2 separate regions of the Homo sapiens genome follow, and region 1 is linked to region 2. Evidence: fine-mapped expression QTL. Tissue or cell type: lung. Region 2 holds a variant in brackets; the other region holds the start of a gene. All regions are shown on one strand. Distances are between the middles of the regions. Region 1 holds the start of LETR1 (lymphatic endothelial transcriptional regulator lncRNA 1). Region 2 has its middle 71 kb from the start of LETR1.

Region 1 (2,923 bases), 71 kb after region 2:
TTCCCAAGGGCACCTCTCCTTCTTCTGCAGAAATACAGCTCGCCTGTTTATTTCTCTTCCTTTTTGGCATTAGCAGTTCCAGTTGTTAAAGGCAGGAAAACTGGAGTCATTGTCTCTCTCTTTTTCATGATTTATGACTCAGAAGCAAGACAGGGGCAGGAGGTTGGAGGGTAATGCTTGCGGCTGTGGTTGCTGTTATTTTTATTTTGTATTTTTCTTAAAGAAAATAAAAGAAATATGCTTTTCTGAAAAATCTTGAAGCCTTGAAGCCACCTGCAGGGCTGTTGTTTTCCAAGGCCTTGCACTTACGTAATTGACATCTACATAGACACACTCCTGGAACATATCGGGGGAGGCAGGCATTCTGCTTGTTCTCATTTGTTCTCAAATTACATGATAAAATACATGTTTTGGACCTTTTAAACCAAAGGGAGTTATTGAGCCCGCTTACAAAATCCATAACATGTTAGCAGGACTTATCTAGCTGCCTCCACAGAATAGCCAAGCAACTCTACACCCGCTTTAGCCCCCACAAAAACAAGCGGATTGCACTACAAATAATTTGCCTATTTGGAAAATGAAAGCTTCTCTGTAGTTTGAGGTCCTATTTTTTCTTTAAGTTGTTACAGTCTTTTCATGGTCCTTGAGGTCTAGGTTAGGTTTTTGTTTGGGGTAATTTTTGTATCCTATGGATACTATTTAATCTTTAGTATTGAGTCAGTATTTCTCACTTAGGCCTTAGGGGAATACTGCCTGAAGTATGTAGGGGGCATGCGGAATTCAGACGTGGCTTGGAAACTGCACCATGGGTTCACCCAAGAAACAGACCAGAGGCAACACATTCTATCACTAAAACGTGTTCTCAGTTACACTTCCCTTCCAAAGGTAAGCATCTTAATTCTTCAACTTTTTAAGAGGCTAAACCCAGTGAGGGCCCGTATGTCCACAAATAGATGACACACCCATCCAAAGCACGCGTGTGTATTAAGGGACAGCGTGTCCTCCCACGTTCCAGCCGCCCCCCTGGCTGCCAGCCGCGGGCTCAGCGCACGTACGGTCCCTGTCACCCGAGCGTACCTGTCCCGTTCTGGCCTTGGAGAACGCAGTGGCTCACAAGGGCACCGCTAGCACGCGAGGCGCGGCGAAGGGAGCGGAGGGAAGCGGCGGGCTGTCGCGCAGGTGCGGCCCCACCTGCCGCCGGATTGGCCGCGGCGGCTGCGGCGCTCCGCGGGAGGAGGGCGGATGATGGATGGCCTGTCTGCCGGCCCGGGTCCGAGCCGCGGGGGCCGCCGAGGGAAAGACGGGCGCGCGCGCGCCGCTCCGTGCCCAGCGCAGACAGCGAGATGCCTGCACAAAAGGATGGGGCTTGGAATGTTTGGATTTTGAAGATTAGTTTCTATTATATCTCTGTGGGAGAAAGGAAAACGCGCTATGGGAAAGTGGAGGGCGAAGAACCCCCGAATAATTTCGGACTGATGTTTCACAAATCATTTCGCCAGGGAACAACCCGCGAGCCTCCCCTTCCCAAATGGCAAACAGTTCAGAAGTCTTATTTGTCATGTATGTGAATGATGCCCTATCAGTATCTGAGAAACAACAGGAAATCAGACCTGAACAGTTGCATCCCCTTATCTCGGGCAATATTAAACCCATTGAAAATGGGTTAAAAAGGAGGGGCGTGGACAATACACTTTAGATATTCTACACAGGCTAAAAATATAAGATAATTGGCTAGTAAACGCTAGTAAACTTTTTTTTCGAAAAAGAAAAAAATAGAAGGATGTGCCCGATATATATATATATATCTATATATATATATATAGCACATTAGGATATGCAACATTTTCATAATTTATCTAGCTTTTACTTGTTTAAAAGTCATGAGCAATTTGAATATGTTTTGTTTGCCCTTGCAAAAGGATGACGGTGCATTGTTTTAGGCAATTCTATTTAAGAAGTGTCCTTTTTAACACTGGTTAGGTTGAGAGTGAGGGTCGAAGCAGGCAGACGGTTAGCAGGAGAGAATAAGTCGTGAACCACCATAGAAATGGGGCTGATAGAGAGCTATTGTGTCATCCGGGCTCTTCTTTGGCGACTGAAAGACAGACAGGTCCATTCACTGCAAGCATTCCTCCTGCGCAAACCGCCACGCTGAAGGTAAAGCATCTCCTGTCGAGGAGGCAGTCAGTCCTGCAGGTGCTGATTCATTTACTTCTGAGAGTAAAATAGTTTAGAAAAAACCAGATTTTTTTTTCTAGGAGGAAAATGATTTTCTGCTTAATTGTGCTTTTGAATTACACCATCTTCCTCTGCCATGTCCACTACCACCACGAAGAAAGTGAAAGCCATGTTTAAAATAGTAATAAATGAGATGGAAACATATCACCAAGGTATATTTTATATAACTGATTGAAAAGCGAGTGGGTGGAAAGAGAGAGCTTAAGTACAAGTGTTTCTCTTTCAAATACCATATGAACAGAACAGTAACTTTAGAAAAAAGAAATGGGAAAAGGAAACATAATAATCCCATCAGGCTAACAGGGACAGCATATACCAAAAAAATGCCCATGTAAATTAAATGTATGCATGCTTCTTACTAGAATTGTTTATATGTATGCTTACATACTTATAAAAGAGTACATTTGAATTGTGGGATTATGTAGTGATTCACACAGCATTATGTCGAAGGGACTTTTTAATATTATTAGAGAATATCCATATTAACCAATTTTAATAACTGCATAATCTTTCATTAATTGTATATATGGTTTGCTCAACTATTTTCCTGATGTTGGATATTTAGGTTGCTTTTGGATTTCACTAGAGTAAATAACACAGTAAGGAACATCTTGAGGCAACATTTCCATGTTTTAAATTATTAATTTCAAAGAAATTTATTGAAGTGGAATAAATGGGCCATACA
Region 2 (2,923 bases):
TGTAACAAACAGGATATTGACATTGCTACTGTCAAGATAAGAAATATTTCTATCGGCACAGGGATACTTCGTGCTGCCTTTTATGGCCACTCCCTCTTCCTTCTTATCCTTCCCCCTCCTTAACCCCTAATGAGTCTCCATTTCTATGATCTTGTTATTTCAATCATGTTGTTATATAAATAAAACAATATACTATGTAACATTTTAAAATTATTTTTGTCACTCTCCATAATTCTTTAGAGATTCATCCAGGTGGTTCCAGGCATCAGTAGTTTTTTTTCTATTAGCATGCATGTATCACGGTTGGTTTAATCATCTTCCCCTTGAAGGACATCTGGATTGACTTTTTGTTTTTCTTTTTTGTCTTCAGTTCTCAAAAGTTTGACTATGAGTGTCTTGCTATGAATTTCTGTGAGTTTATCCTATTTGGGATTCACTCAGTTTCTTAAATCTGTATATTTATGTCTTTGGCTAAATTTAAACACATTTCAGCCATTATTTCTTAGAATGTTTTTCAGGTCTGCCATCTTCCGGTCTTCTAGGACTCAGGGAATGCAAAGGTTAATTTTTTGTCTGTCTGTTTGTTGGTTTTTGGTTTTGTTTTATTTTGGTTTTTTTTGCTATAATCTCGAAGGTCTTTGAGGTTCCTTTCATCTTTTTTTCACTCTATCTTCTCTCTGTTGTATAGATGGTCAATTTATATTGTTTCCTCCAGTTCACCAATATTTCCTCTGTCTCCTCCATTCTGCCCATGCATTGAGTTTTTTATATTGGTTATTGTATTCTTCAGTTCAAAATTTTCCATTTGACTCTTTTATCTTCTATTTTTGGTTATGACTTCCTATTTCTTTGTTGAAGCTTTCCAAATAAATTTTCATTAGCTACAAGAATGTTTTAATTGTTCATTGGAGTATTTTTATGATGGCTGCTTTACAAGCTTTGCCAGATAATTCTAACATTTGTGTCATCTTGATGTTGGCATATATTTATTATCTTTTCTCACTTAGTTTTAGTTCTTTCTTGTTTTTGTATGATGAGTAATTTTCCACTGAAATATGGACATTTCAATATGATGAGACTCTGAATCTTATTTAAACCTTTTGTTTTAGCTACCTTCATCTCACACCATCCTCACAGACGAAGGTGGGTGTCGCTTCATTACTGCCAGGTAGGGTAAAAGTTCAGGTTTCTTAACTCAGCTTCTGTTGACCTCTGAAAGGGGGCTTCTCATTCCTGCTAAGCAGGAGTGGGAGTTTCAGTTCCCCACTAGGCCTCCAATAAAGCAGTTATCTCTTGGCATACATGGGAATTTGCATCCCATGAATATTGTATTTGGATCTGCCTTCAGTTCTGGACACAGAACTTGTGGAGACAGAGGGCTTGTGGTAAACAGAGATTTACATTC[C/A]TATGAAGGAAATTAATTTTCAAGTCAATAAAATAAACTGCACAGGTACATTCTCTGTACTTAGATAACTTTTGGCCTACTCTGCCTAATTAATTATGAAGATTTTAAATAAATCATTCATTTCTGAAGAAAGTGTTTTCTGACTGCCCTTAGCCAAGCAGATGTGTCTATTCTATATTCTCACATGCTCACATGCCACCCCTTTATGACCCTTAGCATATATGCAAATTTACTTATTTGTGTGGGTCCCTAAACTAATACCTCTTCCATTGCCTGCATCTTTCAGGACAGCAGGGGCTTTGGCTGTTTTTCTTTACTATTGTCTTCCAAGTACCTAGAAGAGTATCTGAACATGCTAGGAAGTTGCTACATTTTTGTTTAACAAAATCTGCACCTAGGTGGACCTGTGATGTTCAAACCTGTGTTGTTCGAGGGTCCACTATACTTCCCAACATGTGAGGGATGGAAGTGCCTTGCTGCTGCTCTCCACATGGCTTCCACTGATATCACAGGATTAGGGGGCAGGGGTAAAGTCCCTCCTTCCTACTCAGCCTCCTCTGACACCATCTAATTAGTTTTTGTGGAATTTGGCTAGAATAGAGTGGTTATTATCTAAATGTTTTTCTGTCTTGCTTGGTTGCCCCTTTCCTTGTCCTTTGGCTAGAGACAGAGTAGTCTTTCGCTGGGGCTTTTCTTGTCCTTTCCCATTATTATTTTGGGGTTCTTGGTTCCTTGAACTCTAGGTCTGAGATATATCAGGCAAAGCTAAAAGTCAGGAAACTCACCTTGGTGTTTTCCTTGTATCCTGAGATTCCCTTGTCAGGTAGCTTTCTTCTCTCCACATTCCTGCCTTCTAATGTTTGTTTCTATAAATTCTCAGAGTCTTATCTGTACATAGAAGGAATAATAGATAAAATTATGTGTACTTCATCCTTAGTATAACATTTTTAAAGAACATTTGTGAAAACAAAGATGTCAATCATAATAACATTTAATGAGAAGATAATCTGAGTATCTTATTGCTACCATTTATCTTAAGGGACAAATTCTTTTTCCACGTTGATATGGAGGCTTAAACTTATCGACATTTTCATTTGAAAAAATAATATGTAGATTATGCCAAATCTAAAAATTCACCTCCAGTCCCCAAAGAAGCAATTCCCTTGGCTCTTCTGTGTGTGTACTGAGGTCAATATGGCAGCAGGTACTTCATGAGGCCGCGTTGTTGAGGGAACCCAGAGGATAGACAGATTGGCCATTTTTCACATTTAATTTCCTTGTTCATACAACTGCACAACAGCACTGAGTTCAAACCTGCCAAGACGAATTTATACCTCACTAGCCCTATTCGTTAATTACAGAAATGGCATTTATTTTAAGCACCAAAATGTACCATCAACGAAAAGATGGACGCAGCATCTAACAGTGCTTCTGATGATCACTCAGACCATAAAATTCTATTTTTTTGTTACTGCCATTTTTTATTTTCCCAGCACTTTAATATTTCTTCCCAAAGCA

The links. PIP is the estimated chance that this variant, and not a neighbour inherited with it, causes the effect.
Region 1: LETR1 starts here. The variant in region 2 is fine-mapped to the expression of LETR1 in lung (TOPMed, PIP above 0.99). The same link has a PIP of 0.9 or more in coronary artery, ovary, thyroid, tibial artery and tibial nerve.

Annotation. Positions count from the first base shown.
Region 1 is chr15:95,325,753-95,328,675 of GRCh38, forward strand. LETR1 (lymphatic endothelial transcriptional regulator lncRNA 1) reads right to left here and starts at 1,348. Exons shown (of 4, transcript NR_034095.1): 1 at 1,078-1,348.
Region 2 is chr15:95,254,484-95,257,406 of GRCh38, forward strand. No RefSeq gene overlaps it. Among named protein-coding and RNA genes, the nearest start is that of LETR1, 71 kb to the right of the region's middle. The variant C/A (reference allele first, on the strand shown) is at 1,406.